Homo sapiens: one gene and its partner. The main gene of each other region encodes a partner of the protein of the gene in region 2 in a complex. Each region holds a gene or a part of one and is shown on either strand. Other genes may lie near its edges.

Region 1 (7,346 bases), about 75 Mb from region 2:
CGTTTCCTAGACTTGCTATTCAAAGTGTGGTCTGTAGACAGCAGCATCGGCATCACCAGAAAGCTTATGAGAAATGTATACTCTCAGGCCTCCCTCTATACCTACTGAGTCAGAATCTGCAGTTTAATAAGACATTCAGGTGAGCGTGTCTGGAACTCATCTCCCACAGTGAACTGTTAAAGCGAAGTTATATTCTCTAATTTTTTAATTTTATTTTTTAGAAACAGGGTCTCCTTCTGTCGCCCAGGCTGGAATGCAGTGACGCCATCATGGTTTACTGGAGCCTTGACCTCCCAGGCTCAAGTGATCCTTCCACCTCAGCCTCCCAAGTAGCTGGACCCTAGGCACATGCCACCATGCCCAGCTAATTTTTTATTTTTTGTAGAGACAGGGTCTTCCTATGCTGCCCAGGCTGTTCTCAAACTCCTGGGCTCGAACAATCCTCCTGCCTCAGCCTCCCAAAGTGCTGGGATTACAGGCATGACGCACTGTGCCAACCCCTAATGTTTTTAGTCATTAAGGGCAACCACCTACACAATGGCCCTTGATGTTTCGATTAGCAAGAGGTTCAGATGCTTGGTCTAGAGGATGTTTGGGTTTTCCAACCATATTCAATATGTTAAATTACAAAACAATAAAAAAGTCCATATAATTTTTTTTAATGTATGTCTTTTTTTGAGACAGTCTCTCTCCATCACCTAGGCTGGAGCGCAGTGGTGTGATCTTGGCTCACTGCAACATCCACCTCTCAGGTTCAAGCAATTCTCCTGCCTCAGCCTCCTGAGCAGCTGGGATTACAAGTGCCTACCACCACGCCCAGCTAATTTTTGTATAAAAAGTCCATGTAATTAATTAATTACCATATTTTACCTACCTTCCTAGGTATATTCTATAGGTTTTAATAATTATTGTATACTTTTTAAAAAAATAACTTTTTTTCTGATTACAAAAGAAATGCTTATCGTGAAAACTTGGAAAACAGAATCTAGCATTTCATGAAGAAGGGTTATATTTACCCTACTCATTATCATCCCAACAGTTATTGAATGTTAAAGGTAGAACACTGAGCAAAACACAGGGGAATATATATGTATATATAACATTTTGAAGGTTAGGCACATAATATGCATATTTTTAAGCTAATGAAGCTAAATATAAAGATCCAAGCTAAGTGGGAAGAACACAGACCTTAGAGCAGTAGAATTAGAGTTTTTAGTCCTCTACAACTAGAAGTGGGTTTACCATAAAGTTAATGAAGCTCAAGCTTCAGGGCCCCTTGCTTACACAGGCCCCTCCCAAGGCCCTTAGAGCGGCCTTAGCAGTATACACTTCTGTAACAGTTTTGAGAGTAAGATATTTAAGACCTCTGTCTTCGTTTCTAACTTCCCTTCGTCATCCTCCTCTGGTTAGGAGGTATTGAAATGGCTATAGGCTTTGTGGGGGATTTGGCTAAGGGGACAATGAATAGGGATACATTTAATTTGGGGTCAGTGGCATGCATTTAAGTGGTTTGCAGTCACTTCTGCATGTTTTTAAATTATTGCTCACCATGGGTGTAGGAATGGCTTTCTGGAATATACCTACTGCCCATTATGTCAATTCAGCCAGCACCATGTCACAAAAGTGCAAGGCCAAAGGGCGAAGGAACCCTATGTTGCCTGACACAGGAAGTACTTGGGTAGTGGAGGAGCAACAAGGTTTGAAAGAAAAGAAAGAGCTAGTAAAATTCTTCCATTCTTTTTCCTCTTCTGGGGATGTTGTCTATAGGCACATAGAATGGTCCAGCGTTTGACATACTGTTGTAGGCTTTCCTACAATACAGCTTCTAATAAAACTAGGCTGTCCTGAACCCCTGGTAATATAATTGCTTACCTTTATACCAAGAAGGCTGGGAAAGCACCAAAATCTACTGTGGTGTGTACCCACGCAGACTTCAAGGGGTTCGTGCTATAAGACCCGAAGTCTTATGAGATTGTCCAAAACACAAAAAACCATGTCAGCAGGGCCTATGGTGGTTCCATGTGTGCTATATGTGTTTGTGACAGGATCAAGCATGTTTTCCTTATCGAGGAAAAGAAAATCATTGTGAGAGTGTTGAAGGCACAAGCACAGGGTCAGAAAGCTAAATAAAAAATGAAGCTTCTTTGAGTAATTAAAATTAAAAGACTTAAAAATATGCTTCCAACCATCAGAAGTGGAAGATTATAAGGAGAGGGATCAATTCTCTCAATGCCTAATCAAAATGAAGGTTCTCACTCACTGAGAATCTAAGTCATATCTGCAATTATAACTGCACCATACTTCATGTTTTTATGTGAAGCATGCAAAAGGGAATAGATTAGAAACCCTATGTTTATGGGACAAAAACTTATAGTTGTACTACAGTGAGTCTGTCTGTATGTGAAGTTATATGTCTTATCCACCGTAATGAATGAGATCCTGTCTGAATGCAGCATACAAATCTTGTCCTGAAAAAAACCCTCGGCCAGGCGCGGTGGCTCACGCCTGTAATCCCAGCACTTTGGGAGGCCGAGGCGGGCATATCACAAGGTCAGGAGATTGAGACCATCCTGGCTAACACGGTGAAACCTCGTCTCTACTAAAAATACAAAAAAATTAGCCGGGCATGGTGGTGGGCACCTATAGTCCCAGCTACTCAGGAGGCTGAGGCAGGAGAATGGCGTGAACCCTGGAGGCGGAGCTTGCAGTGAGCCAAGATCGCGCCACTGCACTCCAGCGTGGGCGACAGAGAGAGACTCCGTCTCAAAAAAAAGAAAAAAACTCTCTAGGGCTTCAGTAAAAACCACACACAAAATTGTCACTGAAGCAGCCAAACGGCCATAAAAATCTCATAGCACATCCATGAAACTTGAGAGAGGTTTCCCAAACTGAACAATAACCCTAAAAAAGTACGTTAACAATATCAGTAATGAGTTGTGATGCTGAAATAAATTTATAAACAATTATTAAGAAACAAATTTAATCAGCCATGCTGGAGAAAAGACTGATCTTTCTCTTTTCTTTATAGAGAATTACAAAATACGCCGGGCGCGGTGGCTCTCACCTGTAATCCCAGCACTTTGGGGAGGCTGAGGCGGGCAGATCACATGAGGTCAGGAGTTTGAGACCAGCCTGGCCAACATGGGGAAACTCTGACTCTACTAAGTTTACAAAAATTAGCCGGGCGTGGTGGTGAGCACCTGTAATCCCAACTACTTGGGAGGCTGAGGCAGGAGAGTTGCTTGAACCCGGGAGGCAGAGGTTGCAGTGAACCGAATTGCACCACTACACTCCAGCCTGGGTGGCACAGCAGGACTGTCTGCAAAAAACAAAAAAAAAAAAAAAAAAAAAAAGTTACAAAATAATTGTTATAGGAAAAGGCAATCAGAAGTACGCAGCCAAAACAAAGGTGGGAAAAATGATCATAAATGGTGCTCCCAAAGTCTGGAAACACAGGTGAATATACATAATGTCGGGGGCGACTTCAATCTTTTAGAAAAAAATAGGTTTCTGGGCTCTCAGACGCCCTGTAGAAGAATATCAGGCAGTCAATGAAAATATTACGGTTATGTGTGTGATGTTTGTGGGTTTTATTAACTTTTAAAATATCATTTGTTTTTTCTTTCTCTTTCTAAATATACATTCACTTTCCTACCCTTCTGCGCGTAACTTTTTGTACTCTTTCCTAATGAGGGTCCCCACAAATTGTATGAGCTGCGCTTCCTGCAAAACCAGGATCAGCCCCGTCTGCAACCTCAAAGTCACTGAATTTCTCTGCAGTCTCAGTTTCCCCTTTTAAAAAAATTGGGAATTTGCCCTGCATTTCCTTAGAGTTGCTGTGAAGGCCAAACGAGATGGTGGTGGGCAAAAGAGCTCTGCCAACCACGCAGGCCCCTGCAAATGTGAAGGGCCTCTGACCTGGAGGGTTGGGTGCTGGCCGACCTCGTCAATCCTCCCTACTCCGACCCCCGCGCGGGGCTCCACTGACCCCGCCCCTGCTGGGCACTGACAGCCGCAGCACCGAACCGAGCGGTGGGGGTGGTAGCACCCGCCCACCTGGAGCAACTGGGATCCGAAAGGATGGGGTGCGGGGGAGGGGAGTTCGGGACCAACGGGAGTTGGGGAGCCTGAAGGGTGGTCGCTGAGCCAGGGCAACTGACGATTCCGGAGGGGGTGGGGCGCCAGGCCTCAGCCCCTCTCCCGGAGCCCTCCAGCCTCCTCAGCAGCGGAAGTTCCGGTGTCGGTAAGCGGAGGTCAGAGGTCAGCAGGAAGTCGATACGTGGCTGCCGTCTGTCCCCGCTGAGGAGGTGCAGCAGCCGGAGATGGCGGCGGTGCTGAACGCAGAGCGACTCGAGGTGTCCGTCGACGGCCTCACGCTCAGCCCGGACCCGGAGGAGCGGCCTGGGGCGGAGGGCGCCCCGCTGCTGCCGCCACCGCTGCCACCGCCCTCGCCACCTGGATCCGGTCGCGGCCCGGGCGCCTCAGGGGAGCAGCCCGAGCCCGGGGAGGCGGCGGCTGGGGGCGCGGCGGAGGAGGCGCGGCGGCTGGAGCAGCGCTGGGGTTTCGGCCTGGAGGAGTTGTACGGCCTGGCACTGCGCTTCTTCAAAGGTGAGCCGGGCCAGCCCCACCCCCGCCGCTTCTGCCCGGCCCCGGGAGCCCGGCGTGGGCTGTGGTCCCCAGGGTGACTGGACCAGACTTGCCCTCACCCACTCATACTGGGCTGTGGTGACTCAAGCGGGGTTCCCTCCTTGGGGGTACCCGAAGTTTGTCACTACCCGCTTGGCCACTAGGTCACACCCCTGACGGGCCTGCAACCTTGGTTTAGCAGTCATGTCCCGCCTCCCAGAGGTTACCGGGACATTTTACCTGATTTAGCTTCTGGGATTTCCAGGAGCCCTGGTGGAAGAATGAGCCCACTTTCTTCCAAAGGATCCCATTCTGGGATTGCCTTTTATTATTATTATTTTTTTAACTGACGCTTTTCTTTTCCTATTTCCCATGGCTTGTCACATCAGAACCCGCCGATTTTTACCCTTAGTGGAAGAAATCTGTCAAGAGGTTCCATACATAGCTTTTCCAGCCATTCTTGGGAACCATAAACTGGAACAGGACTTGATCCCCCGGCAGATTGATGTGGCAGAGAGGAGGAAGTAAAGTGTTAAGCTCATCATCCTCTCCGGCTTGTCAAACTCTTGAGGAGAGATGTCCACTATGTTCTAGTAACTTCTAGGTGGTTAAAATTTTACATTGTAAGCAATGTGCAAGAGTGAATTCTCAGAGTAAGGCCTAACAGTACCTTCTGTGCTTTTCGCATAATTAATTGTTAAATGTCTCTTGTCTTAGAGCAAGATTGTAGTGTGCGGTTTTTTTTTTTTTTAATTGGGTGATTCACTTAGTCGAATGGTGGAGAGACCAATCACATGATTTTTGTCAGTGGGAAAAACTGATGAAAGCCCGTTAGTTTGATTCTTAAAGATACTTAGTCTTGTAGGGCGAATGGACAGGGAGGGACATCAGCAAATGCAACTTTAAAAGTGGTTGCTAGGTTCCACGTACATTCCAGAGCAGCATATTTATGACACTTTCCCCAGAGGGAGTACCTTTTGGAGTACATATTTTACTAGCCAAAGTTGAGTAGTTCAATGTAATGATACACACGGAAGTTGTTTTCTCTCAAAATAACTTTAATTGTGCAAACTAGTGAAAGTTTTATAAATTTTCCAGAACATTTGATCATTTCACATTCAATGACATATTCGTGGTCATTGCACAATGAGTTGAGCCCTCTGTGTACTAACTAGCTTGGGGAATTGGTAATGGCTAATGGGTTTTGGATCATTTGACTTTTAGATCACCGGCTTGAATTTAGAGTTTGCTGTAGTGATGATATATTACCACTTGATAAAAATCAGGTGGTTTCTGTACAATTCATATAGCTACATTCCATCTTAAATTTTTATTCTTGGAACTTATTTTTCAGTAAAGTATATTGTAGCAGAGAGTAAGAGTAGAAATGAACTAATTCCTTTTTTTTTTTTTTTTTGAGCTGGAGTCCTGCTCTGTTGCAGGACTGAGGGAGGCTGAGGCAGGAGAATCACTTGAACCCGGGAGGCGGAGGTTGCAGTGAGCCAAGATGGCACCATTGTACTCCAGCCTGGGCGACGAGCAAAACTCCGTCTAAAAAAAAAAAAAGAATCGCTTCAATATGGGAGGCAGAGGTTGCAGTGAGCCGAGATCATGCCACTGCACTCCATCCTGGGCGACAAAGTGAAATTCTGTCTCAAAACAAAGAAAAAGATTAAAACACTGTAACGTGTAGTATACTTAACATTGTTTGGAGAGTCAGGAAGCTCTGGATTCTAGTTACCTTGTAAACTAGACAATTAACTTTTCCAGAATCAGTTTCATATGTATAAAGGGAGCTGGATTCTATAAAATATGATGTCTCAGATTTAAGATTCAGTGGTCTTAACCTAACAGATTATTTTAACATGTGTCTTGAGTGGTAGGAATCCTGGGGAAACTTATAACTTGGGGCCTAGGTGTTAGTCACCTTAGAGAATAAAGCTACACTGATAGGTGTGGTTCACTCACTTCCTAAATGAAGTTCTCAAAGCAATATCCAGGTACTAAAAAGGAGAAATAGCTGTGTAGCAATTAAAAGCTACCTTTCTGCATGTGTCATTGGAGACTGTTAGTATATGAGACACTAACTGACAAAAGGGAAGGATGTAAAAGCAGTCAGAAGAATTATGGAATGTGGAGTGAGCCAAGTAATGCTGCCTTTGTTTTGTTTTTTGTTTTTGAGATAGAGTCTCACTCTGTCGCCCAGGCTGGAGTGCAGTGGTGCCATCTCGGGGCTCACTGCAAGCTCCACCTCCCGGATTCACTCCATTCTCCTGCCTCAGCCTCCCGAGTAGCTGGGACTACAGGTGCCCACCACCACGCCCGGCTAATTTTTTGTATTTTTCGTAGAGACGAGGTTTCACCGTGTTAGCCAGGATGGTCTCGATTTCCTGACCTCGTGATCCTCCTGCGTCAGCCTCCCAAAGTGCTGGGATTACAGGTGTGAGCCACTGTGCCCAGCCTGGTTTTTTTTTTTTTTTTTTTTTTTAGGCAGAGTTTGATTCTTGTTGCTCAGGCTAGAGTGCAATGGCGCGATCTCAGCTCACTGCAACCTCTGCCTCGAGGGTTCAAGTGATTCTCCTGCCTCTGCCTCCCGAGTAGCTGAGATTACAGGCATGTGCCACCACGCCCAGGTACTTTTGTATTTCTAGTAGAGACGGGGTTTCTCCATGCTGGTCTCGAACTGCCGACCTCAGGTGATCTGCCCACCTTGGCCTCCC
Region 2 (7,479 bases):
ACTTGAGGTCAGGAGTTTGAGACCAGCCTGGCCAACATGGTGAAACACTGTCTCTACGAAAATAACAAAAATTAGCTGGGTGTGGTGGTGGGTGCCTGTAATCCCAGCTACTTAGGAAGCTAAGGCAGGAGAATGGCTCCAACCCGGGAGGCGGAGGTTGCAGTGAGCTGAGATGGCACCACTGCACTCCAGCCTGGACAACAGAGTGAGACTCTGTCTCAATTAAAAAAAAAAAAAAGAAAAAGAAAAAAATATATATATAAAATATATATATATATATATATGAACTAAATCATTTTTGAAAAATAACTATATTTTCCGAAACAAGAAAAAAAATCAATGAGACAATTGGCATTGTTTTTAAAGGGGGAAATTTCTTTAATGTCAGACTGGGTTCTCATATCTGCTTCTGCATTCAATCTTTGTGTGTGTGTGTGTGTATGTGTGTGTGTGTGTGTGTCTCACTCTGTCACCCAGGCTGGAGTGCAGTGGCATGATTGCAGCTCACTGCAACCTCTACCTCCCAGGTTCAAGCAATTCTCCTGCCTAAGCCTTCCCACAGGTGCATACTACCACGTCTCGCTAATTTTTGTGATTTTGGTAGAGACACAGTGGCTCACACCTATAATCCCAGCGTTTTGGGAGGCCAAGGTGGGCAGATCACCTGAGGTTGGGAGTTCGAGACCAGCCTGGGCAACATGGTGAAACCCCATCTCTACTAAAAATACAAAAATTAGCTGGGCGTGGTGGCGTGCACCTGTAATCCCAGCTACTTGGGAGGCTGAAGCACGACAATCGCTTGAATTCGGGAGGCAGAGTTTGCAGTGAGCTGAGATCACGCCACTGCACTCCAGCCTGGGCAAAAAAGCAAGACCCTGTCTCAAAAAAAACAAAAACAAAAAACAGAAGATGATAAAAAAAAAAAAAAGAAACCCTCCCGAAAACGGCAGAAAGACAGTCATAAAGGGATGCAAAGAAATTTATACATATGGGCCAGGCACAGTGGCTCACGCCTGTAATCCCAGCACTTTAGGAGGCCGAGGCGGGCGGATCACGAGTTCAAGAGATCAAGACCATCCTGGCCAACATGGTGAAACCCCGTCTCTACTAAAAATACAAAAATTAGCTGGGCATGGTGACGCATGCCTGTAATCCCAGCTACTCGGGAGGCTGAGGCAGAAGAATCGCTTGAATCCAGGAGGTGGAGGAGGGTCCCTTGAGCCAAGATTGCACCATTGCACTCCAGCCTGGGCGACAGAGGGAGACTCTGTCTCAAAAAGAAAAAAAAAAGAAAGAAAGAAATTTATACATATGAACCCTTAGAGCTATAAATAGGAAACTTAAAATCTTCTACTTATGTTTGTGTGTGTGTGTATTTTTAGTAGGGTGGTCTATAACTGACTAGCTATAAAAAGTTCCTGCTTCAAATTTGAAGAGATGTTTCTGAAATTTTTTCTGTCATTGGAAAATAAGAAAACTTCCTACTATAAAAAAGGTTGTCACATGTCTTTCTACAATGTTTCAAAAGGCTAGTCTTGTGGCTGTTTGGAAGGTTATCCCTTGAGGGGATACATGACATTTTAAACTCTAGGCTAAAGCAGGGTCATCGCCTCATGATATTTGCGGGACAGCTGATTGGAAGCTGGCCAAGAGCTGGTGGGCCTAACATGTGGACTGGTGATTCTCCCCAATCCAGACCAGTGGTGAGAATTTTTTTTTTTTTTTTGAGATGGAGTCTCGCTCTGTTGCCCAGGCTGGAGTGCAATGGCGCAATCTCGGCTCACTGCAACCTCTGCCTCTCAGGTTCAAGTGATTCCCTGCCTCACCCTCCCTAGTAGCTGGGATTATAGGCACCCACCACCATGCCCAGCTAATTTTTGTATTTTTAGTAGAGACAGGGTTTCACCAAGTCGGTCAGGCTGGTCTCAAACTCCTGACCTCGACTGATCCACCCACCTCGGACTCCCAAAGTGCTGGGATTACAGGCGTGAGCCACCACGCCAAGCCGATTTTTTTTTTTGAGACAGGGTCTCACTCCGTTGTCCAGGCTGGAGTGCAGTGGCATGATCTTGGCTCACTGCAGCCTCTGTCTCCCAGGCTCAAGTGATCCTCCTACCTCAGCCTCCTAAGTAGCTGGGACTACAGGTGCATGCCACCATGCCAGCTAGGCTAATTTTTGTATTTTTGAAGAGACGTGGTTTCACCATGTTGCCCAGGCTGGTCTCAAACCCCTGAGCTCAAGCAATCTGCCCACCTCAGCCTCCCAAAGTGCTGGGATTACAGGTGTGAGCCACTGTGCCCAGCTGACAAATTTAAACTATCTTTGGCACTCTTGTCCCCATTCTTTGTTCATCTTTCATACTGTACTCCTGCTTTAACCTAGCTTGTCTGCTTGCCCTCTCCTCATGATATGAGCAAATTCCCATTTATATTCTTCAACATACAATTTTTTTGCTTTCAGAATGCTCGCTTGTCTTTTATTTTGCTGGGTTATATCCAATATCTATTCTAAGACCTGACTCACAATATTTCTAAGAAGCCTTCCATTCATTCATTCACCATATACTGGTGTGTGTGTGTGTGTGTGTGTGTGTGTGTGTGTGTGTATGTGTGTGTGTCCATACACATATAGGCCTTCCAAATTAACTTAAACTCCACTATGTCCCTTCAGCAATTAGGTTAGGTACCCCATTTGTTCTACTGTTGTATATACTGCATGTTTTACACAGGCATTTTCAAGCTATTACACTTTATTCTGCCTTCCAATTAAACATTGTAGCAGTGACTCTTTCATCATCTATCCTGTATGATTGTCCCAATAATTAATAATAAAGTACTATAGTAGCAACTTGTACTCTCTTGATCCTAACAAAACCCTGTAATGGGCTAATATTACTTCATCCATATGTCTTCTTTGTAGACATAGAAACTGAGGTTTAAAGAGGTTACATTAGTTATTCCAAATCAAACGGCTTGTAAGTGGCAGGGAAGATGGCATTCAAGACCCGGGCTCAAATAACTAGCCTCAATGTATTAAGTAAGGCACTAATGAGGGGCATTGCATATTAAGTAAAGCCCTAGGAAAGGCATTGAGATAGAGGTTCTGAGGACAAAGAGGGCTCTAAATCAACAATCTTAACCGAAAAATACACAAAAAACTTGCTGGGCGAGGTCGGGCCTATAATCCCAGCACTTTGGTACCTGAGGCCGGCAGATTGCTTGAGGCTAACAGTTCGAGACAAGCTTGGGCAACATAGCAAGACCCTGTCTTTACAAAACAAACAAACAAACGAAAAATACACAAAAGCAACACCAGAGGCCCATTTGCATGGCGTGTTTTTGTTTATTTGTTTGGCCTAATATGGTTTCGTTTTGTTTGGAAGAAGGGATTGTGCCCTCCAAGCCTTTGTCGTTTCACTCACCTCTCCCAACCTGGCCCTGTCCAGCCCCTCCCTGGAGGGCTGGGCATATGGATGCTGGAGGTCACAGGCTGCCCAGGCAGGTTGGTGACCTCGGAGGCAGAACCACGGCCTCGAGTCGGGCCTCTAACGGCGAAAAGACTGACGCGGTTGGACCGCGCCATTCCCGAAATGTTAAGGAGCTTAAACTCCGCATCGTCCTCCAAGATAAGTAGGAAAAGGGCAGTCAGAAAGAACGTCTTCCCCGTCCGCCGTCTTCCTGCGCGCCCTTCTAGGAACCCAGCGTCCATCCCACGGCCTGATTTACTAAGGGAGTCTTGTAGCATACGGGAGGGGGAAAAGTCATTGATTGCAATTACGGTAATTTGGTTAGTTACTCAAACGGTCGTTTACATATAACTTGCATGTTAATATACTTCTGGAAGTATGCATATGTCCATACTTCTTTAACAGGGCACCCACGGCCGCCTGCTCACCCTACTTATGCAGCAAATTTTACTTCTCTCTCGGCTTCTTTAGCCTCGCAAACGCTATCGCTTAGGTCCGCTTCTTAAATATTGGCCCCTCCTCCCACCCGTAAGCTCCTCCCTTCGCCCTCTCTCCCTCGAGAGCTTCCAAACATCTTTTCCCCGCCCCCTTTTCTATTTCTGAACAGGCATGTTCCAGGCAGCTCACCCGACTCCTTAGATTACTATGGAATCGGTAGGGTCCTGACCGCTGGGGAAGCAGGAAAGCGTATCCTGGGAAGAAAGGCTTGGCTTGGACTCCGGAGAAGAATACTACATCGAGACCTGCTGGGGAATTTTATTTTATTTTATTATTTTTTTGGTCTTGGTTGTACTGAGGGAGGAAGAAGAGGTTGTGTGGCCCGGTCGAACTTGTGGCAGCCTGAAGGCCCCCTCAGGCGGCGCCGCGGGCAGCCCCGCAGCCGGGGCCTGGTGCAGCCTCCGCGGCCGCTGTCAGGGAAGCGCAGGCGGCCAATGGAACCCGGGAGCGGTCGCTGCTGCTGAGGCGGCAGTGTCGGCAGTCCAACCGCGACTGCCCGCACCCCCTCCGCGGGGGTCCCCCAGAGGTAAGCTACTCCTCCTTCATGAGTCACCTTTGCCCTGTTGGGTGGGGGGGGGGGTCCCTCTCCCACCCTGTCCCGCACAGTCTTCCCCACCTGAGTTCGACTACGAAACTGCCCTCTTGGTGTCAGCTGCACCCCGGGTTCCTTCTCCACCCTTTCCTCTCAGGCCTGGGGTCCTCCTCCGCTTTTTGGCTTCCTCTTCTATTAGCTCCTCCCTCTGCCTCGGGGATTCCCCCCTCCCTCACTCATCCCTGTTGCCTACGTCTCGAATAATTCTTTTTTTTAAGTCATGAACCCTTTCCATATCAGACGACTCCCATAATGCCCATCCTTGTCCTTCCTCGTCGTCTCTGCCCCTGCCCCAAACCTTTTCCATGGACTCCACCTTTATCTCTTTTCCTAGTTTGCACTTTTCCTCCTATGTCCCTGTGCAACTCCAGCACTGGGTTCCCATTTCCCTGAGCTAAAGATTGCATCCCTGTCTTCCTGTGCTGCTTCTGATTCCATTACCTCACTGTCACCCACCTACCCAGCCAGCTCCTGGCTTCCAAGAATTGCCTGTTCCCTTCTCCTTAAGGGATCTCGGGCCCTTGTCATCAATCCAAAAGTACCATTTACATTCTTACTTTGAACCTAGTCCTCACTCTTCTCTGGGATGCATTATGATCCCTATAACTTTCTTTAGCTTCTCTTTCTCCCTCCTCAATCCCCCAACTTTCTAGAGGTTTCTGTCTGTAGGGGAGAGATTTGACAGTGCCCTTCCCATTCAGGATTTCCAACTTTGACACCTCCCTCGAGTTTCAGGGATTTCTCTGATCCTTGTGACATTTGTTCTGTTTTTCCCGTGGGCTTCATGTGTTCTCTGTTACACTCTTTATCTCCACATACCACTTATTTCAGGATCAACTAAACCTTGAACTAAGAAGAAAAATGTGTTGTGAGCAGGGGGAGCCTCAGCTGCCTCAGGCCGTTCAGGACAGAAGGGTGTTTCTGAAGGCCGGAGCAAGTTTTGAAGAAGTCCCTATCAGATTACACTTGGTTGACTACTCCGGAGCAGCCACTAAGAGGGATGAACAGGCCTGCGTGGAAATTGAATGAGATTGTGAGAAAACTTGTTTCAGATTATTTAATTTTAGGCTTTTGTTAAAGGAATCACAGAATAGAGTGCCTTCTCACCCCTGTCCAGATCCATGAGGAATCAGTTTATTCTTGTGGTTTACTAGAATAGTTTTGGTTGGTTCCATAAGAATTCAGGCCTGGAGTGGGGTAAGGGTATAACTGGAAAAAGGAACATGAGACAATGGAAAGAGCTTGTACATTCAGAATCGGGACTCCTGGGTTCAGCATGTGACTTCCTCACTTGACCTCTAGAGTGATCCTTTTGGAAAATGCCCACTCTCTGTAGGCATCAGTGCAGTAATAAGTTGGTAGCAGGATGTGGGTTGGGGGAAAAAATCAGATTTGGTTTATTTGTTTACAAAACATTTTGGGTTCCTCAGGCAAAAGGTATTTATTAGTAGTGGTTTAGTCATCCTGAGAATTTTCCTTCACCTTGGTCTTTCTGTCAGATGTTTCTAGTCCACAACCAGGGGTGTAAGTCATTTTGAAAGACAAGCTCCAGGCCTGCTTCCTTCATCTGCTTTGCTTTTTCCCCCAGTGCATTAAGTGGCTGATTTTCTGTCCTGTTCCTCACGTACTTGATCCATAACTCCAGATTCTATAGGTAGAAAGTATGTTTGTGGGAAAGCACTTTGAGGAAGCTGGCTGGAAAAGAGAACTTGGAGTGAACTGAGACTTAGGCAACTAGTTGCTGCCATGTCTCTCTCAGCCTGTGATAGCGAAAGGGCACGTGAGATTCCATTCATTTTCTGATTCTAGGTCTGTTTGGGAGTAGTTATGTCATCTTATCCCACTTCCTTTCTCTTCCTTGTCGTTAGTCATGGTGCAGTCTCCTCATAATTCCCCTTATTAGAAGCTTTCCTGCCAGGCGCGGTGGCTCACACCTGTAATCCCAGCATTTTGGGAGGCCGAGGCAGGCAGATCACCCGAGGTCAGGAGTTCAAGACCAGTCCGGCCAACATGGTGAAACCCCATCTCTACTAAAAATACAAAAAATTAGCCGGGCATGGTGGCGAGCTTCTGTAATCCCAGCTACTCCGGAGGCTGAAGCAGGAGAATTACTTGAACCCAGGAGGCGAAGGTTGCAGTGAGCCGAGATCACGCCACTGCACTCCAGCCTGGGTGACTGAGTGAAACTCTGTCTCAGGAAAAAAAAAAAAAAAAAAGCAGCTTTCCTCCTTGGAAGCATCCCCAACCAGAAATCATATTTCCTCTCATTTCCCTGCTTTCTTCTTAGAGTTGAGTCCACGCTCCATGAGAATGCTGAACACCATCCAAAGCAGCAAATTGAGATTCCTTGATTTGGGGAAGAGGTTTGGGAGGAACCCTTCAATAATTGGCATGGGACAAGAGGGGACCCAGTCCAAGTGTATTTGGGACTCGCAGTAGGGAGGAACAATTCAGAGAGAGGTGAGTGCACAGGCTGCTTTCTTTGCCATCTGTTTCAGTAGCGGCTCCCATAGCTGGCTTGGGCTGTCTGGCTGGAATCTGCTTATACCAGCTCCATGGCTCTGCACAGAGTTCTCAGCCTGAATCAATATTGACTTAACTACCATGAGACCACTGCCCTCCCTACCCTCGTGCTAGTAGCTTGAGAATGCCCTCTCCCCTAATGCCCACACTCTCTGGGCCCTTGTGTCAGCAGTTACCTGGATCCTGGTAGGGCTGGAGCTGGCTTGACTGCCTGGCCCTGAGTTTCTATAAGGAAAAAGGAGTACTCAATCTCTACCTTTACCATTGAGGTCAAAGGGGAGAGATGAGTTGAGACATCCTTAAAGAAAGGTTTGAGTTAGACATTAAGACATGAGGAGGAACTCCTCAACAGCAGAACAGGCAGTCAAAGATGATATGGAGTCTCTTTTGAGGAGCAAC

Evidence for each region.
Region 1: the proteins of PI4KB (region 2) and ACBD3 are in contact, whole or in part, in an NMR structure (PDB 2N73), measured with the Homo sapiens proteins. Residues at the interface, in NP_001317650.1 of Homo sapiens: Val37, Gly38, Val42, Ile43, Asp44, Pro45, Val47, Ala48, Gln49, Lys50, Ala51, Cys52, Glu54, Val55, Leu56, Val59, Lys60, His63; in NP_073572.2 of Homo sapiens: Gln245, Ile246, Ala249, Leu250, Gln253, Thr254, Gln257, Phe258, Tyr261, Gln265, Tyr266, Leu276, Leu280, Gln283, His284, Gln287, Tyr288, Gln291, Leu292, Val295.

What each region holds. Positions count from the first base shown.
Region 1 is NC_000001.11:226,183,652-226,190,997, reverse strand, and holds the start of ACBD3 (Golgi resident protein GCP60), read left to right. Parts: upstream 1-4,256; 5' UTR 4,257-4,322; coding exon 4,323-4,608; intron 4,609-7,346. UniProt on the Homo sapiens protein: Involved in the maintenance of Golgi structure by interacting with giantin, affecting protein transport between the endoplasmic reticulum and Golgi. Involved in hormone-induced steroid biosynthesis in testicular Leydig cells.
Region 2 is NC_000001.11:151,324,283-151,331,761, reverse strand, and holds the start of PI4KB (phosphatidylinositol 4-kinase beta), read left to right. Parts: upstream 1-4,345; 5' UTR 4,346-4,491; intron 4,492-5,388; exon of another isoform or gene 5,389-5,582; coding exon of another isoform or gene 5,583-5,590; intron 5,591-6,844; exon of another isoform or gene 6,845-7,017; intron 7,018-7,479. UniProt on the Homo sapiens protein: Phosphorylates phosphatidylinositol (PI) in the first committed step in the production of the second messenger inositol-1,4,5,-trisphosphate (PIP). May regulate Golgi disintegration/reorganization during mitosis, possibly via its phosphorylation.